Linked DNA regions of Homo sapiens. The protein of the gene in region 2 interacts with the protein of the main gene of each other region in a biochemical or structural test. Each region holds a gene or a part of one and is shown on either strand. Other genes may lie near its edges.

Evidence for each region. The genes of interacting proteins can lie anywhere in the genome.
Region 1: the proteins of ITCH (region 2) and UBE2K form a complex in vitro, tested with the Homo sapiens proteins (2 studies listed by BioGRID).

What each region holds. Positions count from the first base shown.
Region 1 is NC_000004.12:39,700,282-39,709,528, forward strand, and holds part of UBE2K (ubiquitin-conjugating enzyme E2 K), read left to right. Parts: intron 1-9,247. UniProt on the Homo sapiens protein: Accepts ubiquitin from the E1 complex and catalyzes its covalent attachment to other proteins. In vitro, in the presence or in the absence of BRCA1-BARD1 E3 ubiquitin-protein ligase complex, catalyzes the synthesis of 'Lys-48'-linked polyubiquitin chains.
Region 2 is NC_000020.11:34,504,847-34,513,094, forward strand, and holds the end of ITCH (E3 ubiquitin-protein ligase Itchy homolog), read left to right. Parts: intron 1-2,848; coding exon 2,849-2,948; 3' UTR 2,949-6,927; downstream 6,928-8,248. UniProt on the Homo sapiens protein: Acts as an Acts as an E3 ubiquitin-protein ligase which accepts ubiquitin from an E2 ubiquitin-conjugating enzyme in the form of a thioester and then directly transfers the ubiquitin to targeted substrates.

The DNA of each region.
Region 1 (9,247 bases), on a different chromosome or scaffold from region 2:
GTAAGGGATGTTGAAGCCTTACTTCAGATAAGCATCAAAAGTGTTTCAGAAGAAGAAAACAGGAAATGCAAACAGACAGGTTTTTTGTTGTTTTTGTTGTTTGTTTGTTTTGTTTTGTTTTGTTTAGAACAGTACCTGTATAAATATGGAAGGAAACTTCTGGGAAAATAAGTTGGAAAGAACATTTAGGAAAGGGTCACATCATTTAATCTTGGAATAAATATAACCAATAAATAGCTTATTTTCACCAGTATTTTTTGATATTTTAGTAGCCCCAGTTCTATAAGTGTATTGTTATTTTCAACTCATTGAAGACTTGTAGTATAGTCCATGTGTTTCCTTTTTAAGGGTGTAAATACAGTCTTTTGAATGGCTGATCAAATAAATGTTTCATCATGTCACTTTTTTGGTAAATCAGCACTTTACCGAAGTTTATTTCATGTGTTTGTATGCTTGTGTTTACTAAGAACACTGGTTGATTTAAGGACTTTTTGGGGTGGCCTTATAAGAGCCTTTGTAAAGATAGCTGACGCTTACTGGATTCTGGTTATGAGAGATTATAAGTGGCCGTTCTTAGAGTGTGTTAAAATACAGCCAACAAGATAAATGTGAAAAAGCAAGGTGCAGAATAGTGTGGAAGAGGCCATTTGTGTCAAAAAGAAGGGCATGTGTGTATTTGCCTGTATGGGTAAAAGGTTTCATGAGAAATTGGTAAAATTGATTGCTTTCTGTGTAGAGAGTTGGGTGTCTGGGGTATAGATATTTTTTGAATTTTGTGTCATACAAATGTGATTTACTTAAAGGCATCATTTGGCCTCTTTCCCTTAAGACAGTGTTTGGAAATTTGTCAGATGTTTCTTTTTATTAATTAATATTTATTTTCTTTGTTTTAGATGTTTGTTTTTAAATATGAGTGTGAATTTTAAGTAGTTTTAAATAATATTCCAAAGTTGTTAGGCATGGAATATTGATGTAAAGTACATTTTATAATTAGTTATTTTATGAGTAGGATTACATAAGTAAATTATTAATTGTGAGGATATAAACCCATAATCAATGTTTTATTCATAAGTTTTATTATTTACTATTAGTTATTGCTGCTGTTAATAACTAGCTGCCATTTGTAGAATGGCTAGTTGTTCTTAGTATCATTTGTTTTTACGTTATTGCTAATTCTTAAGCACAGTTCTTTAGATGTCCTATTTCCTAGATGAGAAAATAGAGATTTAGAGAAGTTAAATTATTTGTCTGCAATCACAGAGCCTGGGATTTGGATCTAGGTCTGCTTGTGTTCATATTGTCCCACGCTGTCATGACTTGCTAAGGATAGGCATGCTTTTAATTAATTTAAAAAATCGAGCCTGGTTTGTATTACTGGTTAAAGGATTTAAACACAGTTTAATTTGCTAGTTTAAACTCATTGAAATAAGTGTTACCTATAATTAACTTTAAGATGTACTTGAATTTCTTTCTTTCATGTTTTTTTTTTTTTCTTTTAAGAAGGAATCTCGCTGTCTCGCCCAGACTGGAGTGCAGTGGTGCGATCTCAGCTCACCACAACCTCTGCCTCCCAGGTTCTAGAGATTCTGCCGCCTTAGCCTCCTGAGTAGCTGGGATTACAGGTGCCCGCCACCACGCCCAGCTAATTTTTGTATTTTTAGTAGAGACGACGTTTCACCATGTTGGCCAGGCTGGTCTTGAACTCCTAACTTCAAGTGATCCGCCTGCCTCAACCTCCCAAAGTGCTGGGGTTACAGGCATGAGCCACCACACCCAGCCAGATTTACTTGAATTTCAATATACCAAATATTTTAAAATTTGAAACTTAATGAAATAAAACACCCTTAAATCAGTGCACTCTCTTGTTGGTCTTATGCTATATGGCACCTGTTGGTTTTTCATGTTGTAATTGCACTTTGGTAACATTTTCTTTTCTTTTCTTTTCTTTTCTTTTTTTTTTTTTTTTTTTTTTTTTTTTTTTTTTTTTTTTGAGACGGAGTTTTGCTTTTGTTGCCCAGGCTGGAGTGCAATGGCGCGATCTTGGCTCACCCCAACCTCCGCCTCCTGGATTCAAGCAATTCTCCTGCCTCGGCCTCCTGAGTAGCTGGGATTATAGGCATGCACCACCATGGCTGGCTAATTTTGTATTTTAAGTAGAGGCGAGGTTTCTCCATGTTGGTCAGGCTGGTCTTGAACTCCCGACCTCAGGTGATCCACCCGCCTCGACTTCCCAAATTGCTGGGATTACAGGAGTGAGCTACTGCACCTGGCCAACATTTTCTAGTCTCATAGGGCGTGTTTAAATCTATGGCATAAACAAATTGGTTTCGTGAAAATTACTATATAGTACATTAAGTTTTCCCTCATCATTTAAATAGATTTTTGTGTCTATTTTCCTTTAAAATTTTAATGTACTTGATCTAGCTTGATCTAGATTATTCTGTAATAGAAGTAGTTGTAAATCTCTAAAAGTAAGTCTTTTGATTTCTGTAGACCATGGATTTTTTAACCTTGGCACTACTGACATTTTGGGCAGATAGTTCTTTGTTGAGTGGCTCTCCTGTGCATTGTGGGATGTTTAGCAACATCCCTGACCTCTACCAGTATATGCAGGTAGCACTGCAGAGCCCCAGCGCATGTCCCCACTATCTCTTCTTGCTGGATGCATCAACTAAAAATGTCCCCAGACTGCCATATGTTGAGAACTATGTAGACAAAACTTTTTTTTTTGATACAGAGTCTTGCTCAGTCACCCAGGCTGGAGTGCAGTGGCACGATCTCAGCTCACTGCAACCTCCACCTCCTGGTTGCAAGCCATTCTGCCTCAGCCTCCCGAGTAGCTTGGATTACAGGCGCCTACTACCATGCCCGGTTAATGTTTTTATTTTTAGTAGAGACGGGGGTTTCACCATGTTGGCCAGGCTGGCCTGACAAAACTCTTTAAAAGAGTGTTTATGGCCAGGTGGGGTGGCTTATGCCTGTAATCTAGCATTTTAGGAGGCTGAGACTCGATTGAGGCCAGGAGTTCAAGACCAGCCTGGGCAACATAGTGAGAGTTTGTTACTACTAACATTTAAAAAAAATCAGCCAGGCCTGGTGGTATGTGCCTATAGTGGCAGCTACTCGGGAGGCCGAGGCTGGAGGATGCTTGAGCCCATGAGGTCAAGGCTGCAGTGAATTGTGATCATGTGACCGCACTTTAGCCTGGGCATCAGCGAGACCCTGTCTCATAAATGAAAAAAGAAAATGATTCCTGGCTATTTATTAACTATATAAGAAGAACACAGCCAGGCGTGGTGGCTCACGCCTGTAATCCCAGCACTTTGGGAGGCCTAGGCAGGTGGATCACGAGGTCAGGAGATCGAGACCATCCTGGCCAACATGATGAAACCCCGTCTCTACTAAAAATACAAAAATTAGCCGGGCATGGTGGTGAGTGCCTGTAGTCCCAGCTACTTGGGAGGCTGAGGCAGGAGAATTGCTTGAACCGGGGAGGTGGAGGTTGCAGTGAGCGAGATGGCACCACTGCACTGCAGCCTGGCGACAGAGCGAGACTCCATCTCAAAAAAAAAAAAAAAAAAAGAATACTTTGAGACTTAACTGTATCAGATGTGTAAGATAATTTATCTAAAGAATAAATGGACACAGACAGTAAAGACAAAAAATATATACTGGCTTTGAATGTTTTATTTTTAAAACTTTTAAGTTTGTTTCCCGTTTTTAGTGTTTTTCTTTTAAAATTTCTCGCTTTTGATTTTAATAAAAAGGTAAAATTTTCTACCAAAAATGAATGTAACGAGAATTTGAACAGTTGTTTCTAAGACTAGAGGCAGGCGTGGTGGCTCACATCGGTAATTGCAGCACTTGGGGAGGCTGAGGCAGGAGAATCGTTTGAGTCTGGGAGGTCGAGGCTGCAGTGAGCGGTGATTGTGCCACTGCACTCCAGCCTGGGTGACAGAGCAACACACTGTCTCCAAATAGTAAAAAAGTGGTTTTTAAAGTTTTTATTTTTATTTTATTTTTTCAAAAGTGTGTTTGAAAGTTATGTAAGTTACAGTTTTATGTAATATTTAAATAGTATTTCTTATGGTTTCTGGAATGGGTTGAGCAAGGAAAGCCTATAGATTGGGTTAAAAAAAATCAAAGTCTGTGCAGGTAATATGTTTGGGGTGAATTCCTTGTATACAGTGTTACAAAGACTTTGAGCTCTGTCCATTGGGCGTAGGTTTAGACACATCTGGGCTCCCTAGCTTCTTCCCTTTTTATTTATTTATTTTTGAAACAGAGTCTCACTGTCACCAAAGCTAGAATGCAGTGGCGTGATCACAGTTCACTGCAGCCTTGAACTCCCCAGGCTTAGATGATCCTCCTACCTCAGCCTTCCAAGTAGCAGGGACTAAAGGCGTCTGCCACCATGCCCAGCTAATTTATGTAATTTTTTGTAGAGACGGGGTTTCACCATGTTGCCCAGGCTGGTCTCGAACTCCTGGACTGAAGTGATCCTCCGGCCTTGGCCACCTGAAGTGCTGGGATTACAGACGTGAGCCACCATGCTTGGCCTGTCACCCCTTCTTAAAGACTATACACCTTTTTTTTTTTTTTTTTTTTTAGACGGAGTCTCCCTCTGTCGCCCAGGCTGGAGTGCAATGCGCCATCTCGGCTCACCGCAACCTCCGCCTCCCGGGTTCAAGCAATTCTCCTGTCTCAGCCTCCTGAGTAGCTGGGATTACAGGCATGTGCCAGCATGCATGGCTAATGTTTTTTTTTGTTTTTTTTTGTTTTTGTTTTTGTATTTTTAGTAGAGACGGGTTTTTACCGTATTGGCCAGGCTGGTCTCGAGCTCCTGACCTTGTGATCTGCCGCCTCGGCCTCCCAAAGTGCTGGGATTGCAGGCATGAGCCACTGCACCTGGGTTTTTTTTTTTTTTTTTTTGGGAGACAGAGTCTTGCTCTGTTGTCCAGGCTGGAGTATGGTGGCACGATCTCAACTCACCACAGCCTCTGCCTCCCGGGTTCAAGCGACTCTCGTGCCTCAGCCTCCTGAGTAGCTGGTATTACAGGCGCACCCCACCACGCCCAGCTAATATTTTGTATTGTTAGTAGAGACAGGGTTTTACCATGTTGGCCAGGCTGGTCTCGAACCCCTGACCTCAAGTGATCCAACTGCCTTGGCCTCCCAAAGTGCTGGGATTACAGGCGTGAGCCACCGTGCCCAGCCAAGACTATATACTCTTATTTCCCGTGAATACATTATTGACAGTTATTGAAAATATTGACTATAGCCCCAAAAGGCTTAACTGGTTAGAGATACAGGGCAGACAAAGGATAGATAAAAATGGTGGGGGCAAAGAGTAAATGCTATGGGATTCTAAAGGGTATCTGCATGAGAGAGATTCCTTTTTGTTGTTGTTTTGTTTTGTTTTTGTGACAGAGTCTCGGCTCTATCACCCAGCCTGGAGTGCAGTGGCTCCATCTCAGCTCACTGCAACCTCCGCCTCCCAGGTTCAACCAATACCTCAGCCTCTGGAATGGCTGGGATCCCGGGATTACAGGCATGCGCCACCACGCCCAGCTAATTTTTTTTTTTGAGACGGAGTCTCGCTTTGTCACCCAGGCTGGAGTGCAGTGGCGCGATCTCAGCTCACTGCAACCTCCGCCTCCCAGGTTCAACCAATACCTCAGCCTCTGGAATGGCTGGGATCCCGGGATTACAGGCATGCGCCACCATGCCCAGCTAATTTTCTTTTTTGAGACGGAGTCTCGCTCTGTCACCTAGGCTGGAGTGCAGTGGCGCTATCTCAGCTCACTGCAAGCTCCGCCTCTCAGGTTCATGCCATTCTCCTGCCTCAGCCTCCTGAGTAGCTGGGACTACAGGCGTCCACGACCACTCCCAGCTAATTTTTTGTATTTTTTTTTTAGTAGAGACGGGGTTTCACCGTGTTAGTCAGGATGGTCTCGATCTCCTGACCTCGTGATCTGCCTGCCTTGGCCTCCCAAAGTGCTGGGATTACAGGTGTGAACCACCCTGTCCGGCCACAATACCCAGCTAATTTTTGTAGTTTTAGTAGAGACAGGGTTTCATTGTATTGGCCAGGCTGGTCTTAAACTCGCGGCCTCAGATGATCTGCCTGCCTGGGCCTCCCAAAGTGCTTGGCTTAAATGGTGAGCCACCATGCCTGGCATGCCTGGACTTTTTTTTTTTTTTTTTCCCAGATGGAATCTCACTGTGTCACCCTGGCTGGAGTCCAGTAGCATGATCCAAGCTCACTGCAGCCACCACCTCCCAGGTCAAGCGGTTCTCCTGCCTCAGCCTACCAAGTAGCTGGGATTACAGGCGCGCCCCACCGCCCAGCCAATTTTTTATATTGTTAGTAGAGACAGGGTTTTATGATGTTGGCCAGGCTGGTCTCCCAAAGTGATAAGATTACAAGTGTGAGCCACAATGCCCAGCCAAGACTATATACTCTTATTTCCCAGTGAATACATTATTAACAGTTACCGAACATGTTGACCACAGCCCCAAAAGGCTTAATTGGTTGGAGATACAGGACAAAGGATAGATAAAAATGGGAGGGGCAAAGTGTAAATGCTATGGGATTCTGAGGGTATTTGAATGAGGGAGGTTCTTTTTTGTTTTTGTTTTGTTTTGAGTCAGAGTCTCTGTCACCCAGCCTGGAGTGCAGTGGCTTTATCTCGGCTCACTGCAGCCTCCGCCTCCTGGCTTCAAGTGATTCTCAGGCCTCAGCCTCCAGAATGGCTGGAATTACAGGCATGCGCCACCACACCCGGCTAATTTTTTTTGTATTTTTAGTAGAGACTGGATTTCACCATGTTGACCAGGCTGGTCTCACACTCCTGACCTCAGGTGATCTGGCTGTCTTGGCCTCCCAAAGTGCTGGGCTTACATGTGTGAGCCACCCCACCTGGAGTTTTTTTGTTTTGTTTTGTTTGAGATGGAATCTCACTCTCTCACCCAGGCTGGAGTGCGGTGACATGATCTTGGCTCACTGCAGCTTCTGCTTCCCAGGTCAGGCAGTTCTCCTGCTTGACCCAGTAGCTGGGATTACAGGCGCATGCCACCATACCCAGCTAATTTTCCTATTTTTAGTAGAGATGGGGTTTCTAGCCAGGCTGGTCTCGAACTTCAGACCTCAGGTGATCCGCCTGCCTTGGCTTCTCAAAGTGCTGGGATTACAGGCATGAGCCGTCGTGCCTGGCCTGTATGACTGTATGAGGGAGGTTCTTGAGCTAGGTGCCTTTTTTTTTTTTTTGAGATGGGGTCTCACTCTGTCGCCCAGGGGCACAATCATAGCTCATTGCAGCCTTGACCTCCTGGGTTCTAGCAGGCCTTCCACCTCAGCCTCCCGAGTAGCTGGGACTACAGGTGTGTGCCACCACACCTGGCTAATTTTTATTTTTTGTAGAGATGGGGTCTCATTGTGTTGCCCAGGTTGGTCTTGAACTCCTGGCTTCAAGCAGTCCTCCTGCCTCAGCCTCCCAAAGTGCTGGGATTATAGGCATGAGCCACCTCACCCAGCCTTCTTGAGCTGAGTTCTAGAGGAAAGTTAAGACTGACCTCAAATTTCAGGAGACAGTCCCAAAGGAATTCTGGTAATATTGCAATTTTTTTTTTCTGAGACAGTTTTGCTCTTGTTGCCCAGGCTGGAGTGCAGTGGCACAATCTCAGCTCATTGCAACCTCTGCCTCCCGGGTTCAAGCGATTCTCCTGCCTCAGTCTCCCGAGAAGCTGGGATTACAGGCATGCACCACCACGCTCAGCTAATTTTGTATTTTTAGTAGAGACCGGGTTTCTCCATGGTGGTCAGTCAGGCTGGTCTCGAACTCCGGGACTCAGGTGATCTGCCAGCCTTGGCCTCCCGAAGTGCTGGGATTGCAGGCGTGAGCCACCGCGCCTGGCCGAGATTCTTAAGTAAATGAACTTTTCTTTAGGCACATGAATTGGAACTATGGAACAAAGAGATTATTGATACAATTATTCAAGAAGCACATTTGCATATTTAGAACAGAAAGGTTGCACAGCTCTTACATACTCAAACATAGTTTTAGAGTTAGATCATGATCTTAACTTTCTTCATGGTTACCTTTTGGGGAGGAAAACCACCCTTTTTCATATTAAAGTAAAATGTGTACGTAATAAAGTGTGACTGGCATCCAAATCAAGAAACAGACCCTTCCCAGTACCATGGGAATCTGCCTGCCTTTCTAGTTACTTTCCTGACTTCTAATAACCGATTAGTTTTGAGTATGTTTGAGTAAAAGAATAGATGTGAGTATATATTATGTATTTTAAGTTTGAAAGTTTTCAAAAGATGCTTTTCAAAATCTTTCTTAAGAAAAATATAGTGTCTTAGAAAATGTGCCAAAATGTATTGAATTTCAGAGCTGAAACAGATCTAGGCCAAACTTCTCATCTATAAAATCAGGAAATTGAGGCCCAAGGAGGTTGATTGTTTCTCAGAGAAACAGAGCTGGTTAATGGTGAACCCAGGCTTTTTGCATACCAGTTTAGTCATAATAAGTAGTTGGTTTTTGGGAATATCCTTTTCATAAATGATAGTATAAAAGCTGACTGCTAATACAACTTTACAGAAGGGGATAACAATGCAGTATTATTTGTGTCTTTTTTTTTTTTTTTCCTCTTAGTATGAGAACTTGAACTTGCCAAGGAGGTAGAGATTTTTTAACTCCTGAAGCATAATTTAGTTAAGTTAGCTTAGTAATTAAGGGCGTGGGCTTTAGAATTAGATTTGCTTTGAGTCCTGGCTTTTCTTCTTAAAACCTGAAGTACTGGCTCTGTATCTCGATTTTTTTAATCTGTAAAAATGTGGGAAGATTAGGAGAGTCCTTGCGGTGCTTAGAACAACCTTGGGACATAATTAAACATTCAGTAAACGGATAGCTGTTAGATGTCAGAATTAGCTATGTTTTCATATTCTGTCGTGCTTATTATTCTTGGATTATAAAGGTATTGTTCAATGGTTTAGTGATTATTGGATGTAAATATGCCTCAAGAAAAGCTCAAGATGAGGGTTAAGGTACTTCTAATAGTGTTTCTTTGTCACCTGTGTGCCAATAATCCATGGGGCTAGTGGCCAAGTAGTCCACCCTTATCTGCAGTTTGATTTTCTGCAGTTTCAGTTACCCATTGTCAACCATCGTCCAAAAATAAGTGAGTATAGTACAATAAGGTATTTTGAGAGAGCACATTCACGTAACTTTCATTACAA
Region 2 (8,248 bases):
GGTCACATATGGTCCTTCCTGGATATCTGACCTCTTTACTGTTTTACTAATGTCTATTCCTTTTTGTTTTTATACATAATGTTTTGTACATGCATGTAGTGTTTAAGTAACAATTTTATTGATATATAATTTACAGATTATAAAACTCACCTTCTTAAATTATGCAGTTCGGTTCAGTGGGGTTTTTTTGTTTGTTTGTTTGTTTGTTTGTTTTTGAGACAGGGTCTCACTTTGTAGACCAGGCTGGAGTGCAGTGGTTTGATCTCAGCTCACTGCAACCTCCGCCTCCCAGGTTCAAGCAATTCTCTTGCCTCAGCCTCCCAAGCAGCTGGGATTACAGGCGCCCGTGACCACGCCCAGCTAATTTTTGTATTTTTAGTACAGATGGGGTTTCGCCATGTTGGTCAGGCCGGTCTCAAACTCCTGATCTCAGGTGATCCACCCACCTCGGCCTCCCAAAGTGTTGGGATTACAGGTGTGAGCTGCCGCATCTGGCCTGTTCAGTGATTTTAGCATATTTATGAGGTTATGTAAGCATCATTACTGTCTAATTCCAGAATTTTTTCACCCTCCCAAAAATCCATGTACCCATTAGCAGTCACTCCCTTTTTACCCCGTGTAGCCCTTGGTAACCACTAATCTACTTTCTGTCTCTATGAATTTTCCTGTTCTGGACATTTCATATAAAATGAATCATACGATAAATATATAACTTTTTTTTTTTTGGAGACAGTCTCTCTCTGTCACCCAGGCTGGAGTGCAGTGGCGTGATCTCAGCTCATTGCAACCTCTGCCTCCTGGGTTCAAGTGATTCTCCTGCCTCAGCCTCCCGAGTAGCTGGGACTATAGGCAGCATGCACCACCACGCATGGCTAATTTTTGTATTTTTAGTAGAGACGGGGTTTCACCATGTTCGCCAGGCTGTTCTTGAACTCCTGACCTCGTGATCCACCCACTTTGGCCTCCCAAAGTCCTGGGATTACAGGCGTGAGCCACTGCCCCCAGCCAAAATATACAACCTTTTGTGTGTAGCTTCTTTTACTTAGCATGTTTTCAAGGTTCATCCATGGTCTAGCATATACAGTATTTCATTCCTTTTTAAAATTAATTGTTGGGTTTAATATACATAACATAGAATTTACCATTTTTAAGTGTGTACAGTTCAGTGGCATTAAGTGCATTCATATCATTATGCAGTCATCACCATCACCTATCTCCAAAAATTGTTTCTTTTGTTGAGACATGTCTCAGTCTGTCACCCAGGCTGGAGTGCTGTAGCTCAATCTCCACTCATGCACCCTCCACCTCCCGGGCTCAAACTGTCCTCCTACCTTAGCCTCCCAAGTAGCTGGGACGACAGGCATGTGCTACCACACCTGGCCAATTTCTAAACTTTTTGTAGAGACAGAGTCTTACTTTGTTGCTCAGGCTGGTCTCGACCTCTTGAGCTCAAGCAATACTCCTGCTTTGACCTCCCAAAGTGCTGGAATTACAGGCCATCATGCCAGACCTAAAACATTTTTCATCTTGTAAAATTGAAATGGTACCCATTAAAGCAGGGGTCCCCAACTCCTGGTCCCCAGCCTGTTAGGAACTGGGCTGCACAGCAGGAGGTAAGTGGAGGGTGAATGAGCATTACCTGCTGAGCTCCACCACTTGTCAGATCAGCAGAGGCATTAGATTCTCATAGGAGCAATAACTATTGTGAACTGTGCATGTGAGGGATCTAGATTGTGCATTCCTTACGAGAATCTAACCTGAGGTGGAACAGTTTCATCCTGAAACCATCCCCCTCTCCACTCCTGTCCATGGAAAAATTGTCTTCCACAAAACCATTGCCTGGTGCCAAAAAGGCTGGAGACTGCTGCTTTAAACAATGACTCCCCATGACTCCCTTTCCCCAGGTCCTGGCAAACATCATTCTACTACTGTTTCTATGATTCTTTAGTACTTCGTAAGTGTAGAATCGTACCTTATTTGTCCTTTCCTGGCTGGCTTATTTCACTTAGAATAATATCTTTAATTTTCATCCATGTTGTAGCATGTGTCAGCATTTCCTCCTTTTTAATGCTGAATAATATTTGATAGTCTGGATATACTACATTTTGTTTATACATTCATCTGTCCATGGACACTTAGATTATTTCCACCTTTTGGCTGTTTATGCTGCTATAAACATAGGTATACTGTGGTAGAATATAGATATATCTGTCCATGGCCCTGCTTTCAGTTGTTTTGGGTATATACCCAGAGGTGGAATTCCTTGATCATGTAGTAATTCTATTTTTAATTTTTTGGGGGAATCTCGCCATACTGTTTTCCATAGTGACTACACTGCGTTATATTCCTACCTGTAGTGCAGAGGGGCTCCAATTTCTCCACATCCTCACATCCTTTTCAACTCTTGTTTTCTTCTGTTTTTTTTTTTTTTTTTTTTTTTTTTGGTTGTTGTTGTTGTTGTTTTGGTGTTTTAAATAATAGCCATCCCAACAGGTGTGAAGTGGTATCTCATTGTGGTTTTTATTTGCATGGTAAAGGATGTTGAGCATTTTTTTAATGTGCTTATTGGTCATTTGTATGTCTTTGGAGAAATCTCTATCCTTTGTTCATTTTTAAATATTGTTGAGTTTTAAGTTTTTTATATATTTTGGATACCAGTCCTTTATCAGATATATGATTTACAAATATTTTTTCCCATTTTTGGGTTATTTCACTTTCTTGATGGTATCCTTTGAAGCACAGTAGTATATTTTTGTGCTTCTATAGTAGTGTATAAAGTAGTATACTACACTACTCATTTGATTCTTTGCATATTTCCTTTTCTCAAACTAACAATTCTTGCTTTTAGTTTTAATCGCCTGGACCTGCCACCATACAAGAGCTATGAGCAACTGAAGGAAAAGCTGTTGTTTGCCATAGAAGAAACAGAAGGATTTGGACAAGAGTAACTTCTGAGAACTTGCACCATGAATGGGCAAGAACTTATTTGCAATGTTTGTCCTTCTCTGCCTGTTGCACATCTTGTAAAATTGGACAATGGCTCTTTAGAGAGTTATCTGAGTGTAAGTAAATTAATGTTCTCATTTAGATTTATCTCCCAGTGATTTCTACTCAGCGTTTCCAGAAATCAGGTCTGCAAATGACTAGTCAGAACCTTGCTTAACATGAGATTTTAACACAACAATGAAATTTGCCTTGTCTTATTCCACTAGTTTATTCCTTTAACAACAATATTTTATGTGTGTCAAAAGTCTCACTTGGGAGTAGTGTTTTTTTCTTTTAGACATTCTGCAGACATGCAGGGAAGTCCTTTGGTAACTGCAATATACAAGATTTTCCTATTAAGCCTCTTGGTAAGAGGCATTTGTTAAAAGTGCAAGCTTACTCCTGCTTCTGGGGATGTGAGCAAAATTCGGGCTTGTGTTCTCCCTCTCATTTTAGTCTGACTTGACTATTGTTTTTCCTTTCTGGCGCATGAATCCATACATCATTCCTGGAAGTGAGGCAAGACTCTTGCATCTCTACAAAGTAGTTTTGTCAATTTGAATTCAGGGAAAAGTTGGTCACAGCCTGCAAATGACTTCATTTGGAAGTCTGATTGTTTCAGTTGCCTGACAAATACTACACTTTACAAACAATGTTAACACTGTGATTCCTTCATTGTTTTAAGAAGTTAACCTAGGGCCGGGCATGGTGGCTCATACCTGTAATCCTAGCACTCTGGGAGGCCGAGGCAGGAGGATCCCTTTAGCCCAGGAGTTAAAGACCAGCCTGGGCAACATAGGGAGACCCTGTCTTTTTTTTGGGCAGCGTGGTGGGGGATAAATAAATAAAAGGAAAAAAAACTTAGCCTAGAATTAGAATTAATTTAATTGAATTCATCTAAAGATGTCTCTGGTGATTTTTATATGTTCCGCTATATAATTGATGCTTTATAGTTTTATCATAATCCAACAACTTCAGTTATATTTAATTATTGTTAAGGAGTTTAAGACTAGAAAGACTAGAGTGCTTTCTAGTCCAAATAGAGGTCAGTGAAACAGCTTTTGACATCAGATTTTCATTTGAGAGGGAGAGCTGTGGTACTGGCTAAAAAGAAAGGAAGATAACATCCAGTAACCACAGGAATATATTCTCTGTGAATTAAAAGTCTTCAAAGTTATCATTTCTCTGACATATGTTGGAGTAGTCATTTCCATTCTTTACATTGTCATGAACTGGATTGATAACCCTCATCTGCAATATTTTCACCCCTAAAATTTTTAACAGGGTTTCCTTTTTTTCTCACGACTATTTAAGTTTAGATTGCTCCATTATTAACTGATTAATGCACTTTGAAGTTCTCTGGAATTAATTATTTTAACTTGGCCTAGCTTCGACTGTCAAGGTGGCTGTTATAAATTTGACTTCATTGGCAGTGGATGAAGCCTAAGCCAGCTGAGTCTCTATCATAGCTGAACCCTGAGGACAGCCTCATAGCTCATGTATCAGGGACTTTTGCCACATTTCAGAGGCATAGCATGAACAAGTAATATTAAGCCAAGAATAAGCAGCAGAACCCTGTTCCATATGGAAAAAAGAAAAACAATTTTTTGTCCCTAATGTTCTTCCTTTTACATCCTGGAACAACAATAAAAACATTTTTTTAAACTTGTCTACTGTAAGATACTGCCATCATAAAGCAGAGACTTACATGAGTGAAAGGGTTGCCTCATCAAGCAGCTCAGTGTAAATGGGGAGGCTAGGCTCTCCCCAGCCCTATGGTTTTTTTATTTCATGTACCCCAGGAAATACTGTGTGGTTTCTAAAAGCCCTGGTTGTTAAAAGTAGGGACTCTGCCTTTTTGTTGGTAGGGAGAAAAAACGCTATTGCTTTGTCTTACAGAGCGAATGTCTGCCAACTACCCGTTCATTATATAAGTCTGAACTTGGTAATATATGGCTAATGAAGATTAAGCCCTCTATAAAGACTTCCTGTTGAGGTGAATTCTCATACTGAAATGTAGTTACCTACAATATTTACTAGAGATTTATGAAATTAAATTAAGAGATAATGTAAGAAAATACATTTTTTTGGTTCTATATAATGCTTCATGATTCATTTAGGGACCTAGAAATATTGTGTGAAAATATATAAATATCACCCAAAAGGCTTTCTGCCCTATATTTTTAAAATACAGAATAGTTATATTTGAAGTAGCCCTGGCCCTAGTTCTATAGGGCTTGGCTATTTAATATTTTTATGGAAGAAGTGTTTAGTTCTGGAAAAGGTAAATGCTTGTATATATTTTTGCAGCCTGGGATCTCCCTACTCCATTTTTTCCTTTAATTTAAGTGGCCACATGTATATGTCTTCCCTGCTGTGTTAGGAAAATGGGGGCTGGATATCCCAAGAATCAGAGGTTATATAAAAATACTGCAAATAGACCGCAGACATAAATATCTACCAAATGCTATCTTAAATTTTGGTCCAAACTGAACATATGGAAATAGATTTATTGTAAGTATTTACTTAGAGCTTTTTCTTAAATCTGAACTAACTTGCTTTTAGAAGTCTTTTTCTTTGTAAGCATTGTAAATGCTAATAAATCCTGTTAATTTTTTTTTTTTTTTTTTTTTTTTTTTACTGCATGTTACATTGAAATAAAAACAAAGTAAAATGAGCAATTGCCTTATTGTTCTGCTCTTTTGCAGGGGGTGGGGGTTGGGGAAGACAGCATTCCACAGCCTGGTCAGGAGGGAAGGACCTCACTTGTTTCATCAAATGGAGTGGTTTAAAACTGATCAAGCAGCTCATAATAATGAATTCCTGCTCTGTCTTTTATTATCTTATGTCAGAGTGCAGCAAAATCTCATTTCATAAGACTTACAATAACTCTATTTAAAATTCAGGTATTGTACTCGGGAGGCTGAGGTGGGAGGATCCCAGGAGTTCAAATCCTGCCTGGGCAACATAGCAAGACCCTGTCTCTTAAAAAAACAAAAAGACATATTCAGGTACTGATTTTTCATCAAGAGATTGACATACCAATGATCAGAAATTTTAGTGAAACTTGACTCAACTATACACAAAGTTCTCATCCTAAATGAACTATTTCAGTCAAGCCCACTCTACCACTTTTTACTTATCTGGTTAATAATCCGAAATGTTACCGGGGTTGACTCACGGAATTAAATTTTTCCTCTATTTTTATATCCTTTCCTGTTGTGGATGTAACTTACCTTTCTAAACTCCTTTAGAGTTAACGACTTCTATTTAGTATTGTTGGTATCTCCAGCCCCCCTCCTTTTTTTGTTTTTCTTTTAGTTATTTACTTTGTTTGTATAATTTGCTTTCATTAACTAAAAATGGAATTGGCAGCACTGGATTGTATATTACTGTATTAAGAGTACCTTTGTTTTCTTGATCTGTTACTTTTAATACTCAGGTAATGCTACAAATATTACAGGGAGTCAAATGCTTTTATAAAGTTCCTTCAGTGGTTGCCTCACTTGCGTTTTCCTACAAGATGTAAGACTGTTTATAATTAAACTTTTTTGGTCCTTCATTTGCATGCTTTTCTATCAGTCTTGGGTAAGGAGGGGTCTCTTTCCTCTCTCCCCGGCCCCACCTTCTGAGACTTATATGTGACCAGGTCACATAGATTTCTGCCTCTCTGCTTTTTTAAGTGGCAAGTTACAGCCCATCTGGATTGTGGTATTGTTCCCAGACCAAATCAAGGGTTGGACTGCTTATTCTCGCAGCCCAATAATGAGGTGCAGATGAACTGAGAAAGGAGGGAGTTTATTTCTGTAACCAGGTATGGGGAGAAAGCCTGGAAATGATCCCAAGACCAACTCAAAACTACAAAGTTTTCCAGAGCTTATTTACATTATAAGCTATATGTCTACATGTGAGTGTACATTCATCTAAAGACATAAGTGATTCACTTTTTTAAATCTATAAATAAGATCTGAGCCCTGAAGACCTTCCTCTGGAGCCTCAGTAAATTTACTTAATCTAAATGGGTCCAGGTGCTGGGGTGATTACCCTTATCTTGTTTCCTGCTAAATCATGGAGGTTTGGGGACTTCCTTCAGACCCCCAGTAAACTTGTTTGTGGAGGCCTTCAGACCCCCTCAATAAGTTCCTTCAGACCCCCAATAAAACTTGTTTAATCCTAAATGGGTTCCTTTGTTATCTTGTCATGCTTCAAGGCCCAGAAAAGGCCTGGGCAAAACCCTTGGTGGCCTTTTGTTACATTCTAGCCTTTGCATAAGGGCCCTCACTCTTTCAGCTTTTAATATTTAACTTAACCACTCAGTGCTGAAACAGTTGTTATGGAGGCCTGCGTTATTGAGATCTGGCCTGCCACGGTACGGGTAGAAAAAAACTAGAAAGAGCTGTTGCAGATGAGACTGGATTTGGTGCCCATGTTGAAGATGAAGATATCTGCAGGGGCCATCAACCAACATAAAGGCCTCCATATGAATTGCTTTTCTGAGACAACTAAAAGACCGGGACCACAGGCATGAGTGCTGAGTAGAGAACCACCAACTAGCTAGCTGTCAAGACTGTTACCAAGACTGTTCTCAACAAGCTGACCTGGTTACCAGCGTCAGTAGAACTTTGTCTTATTAGGAAGCTCAGGTGATTATGCTCTCATTTAAAACAGAACCAGTGGAGAGAGACTAAGGGAAGAGGAATTTTTTAATACGGCTGATCTAACATGGACTAGAGGACAAAAACTGCAGGCCCCTCCCAGGTCCTGAGTAGTTAGTAGACCCTATCCTGTTTATTCTGTCCAATGGAAGCTGCTAGAATGCTCTAGTTTCATTGTGGCTTAGAATAAGGGGAAAAATATGCCCCGCTAAGTGAGGGTCAATGGTCAGTAAGTAATTGTTCTTACTGGCCATTGGCTCTCATCCCAAACCCTACAAATCATCAAACTGGGACTCAGCTGTGACTGACTGGCTGTTCTCTGGACTTTTTAAGTGTCTGTCTCACATTATGTAACTCCAGTACAGGAGCTGCTCTCTCTCCCAGCCCATTTCAGTTGTCAATTCTTCCATGTTCATAGGACTCCTTTGTGATCAGGATATCTGGAGTGAGGAGCCAGGGGAATATTCCTGGTTGGCAAGGAAAAGAGGGCCTTAAACATAAATCCCAGAAGGACACTGTTGATCACTTATGCACAGGGGTCTGTTAATAAGCAAAGAGTGGCTATGGACAAGAGGATTTCCTCAAAGCACCCCACAGGGAAGGACCTT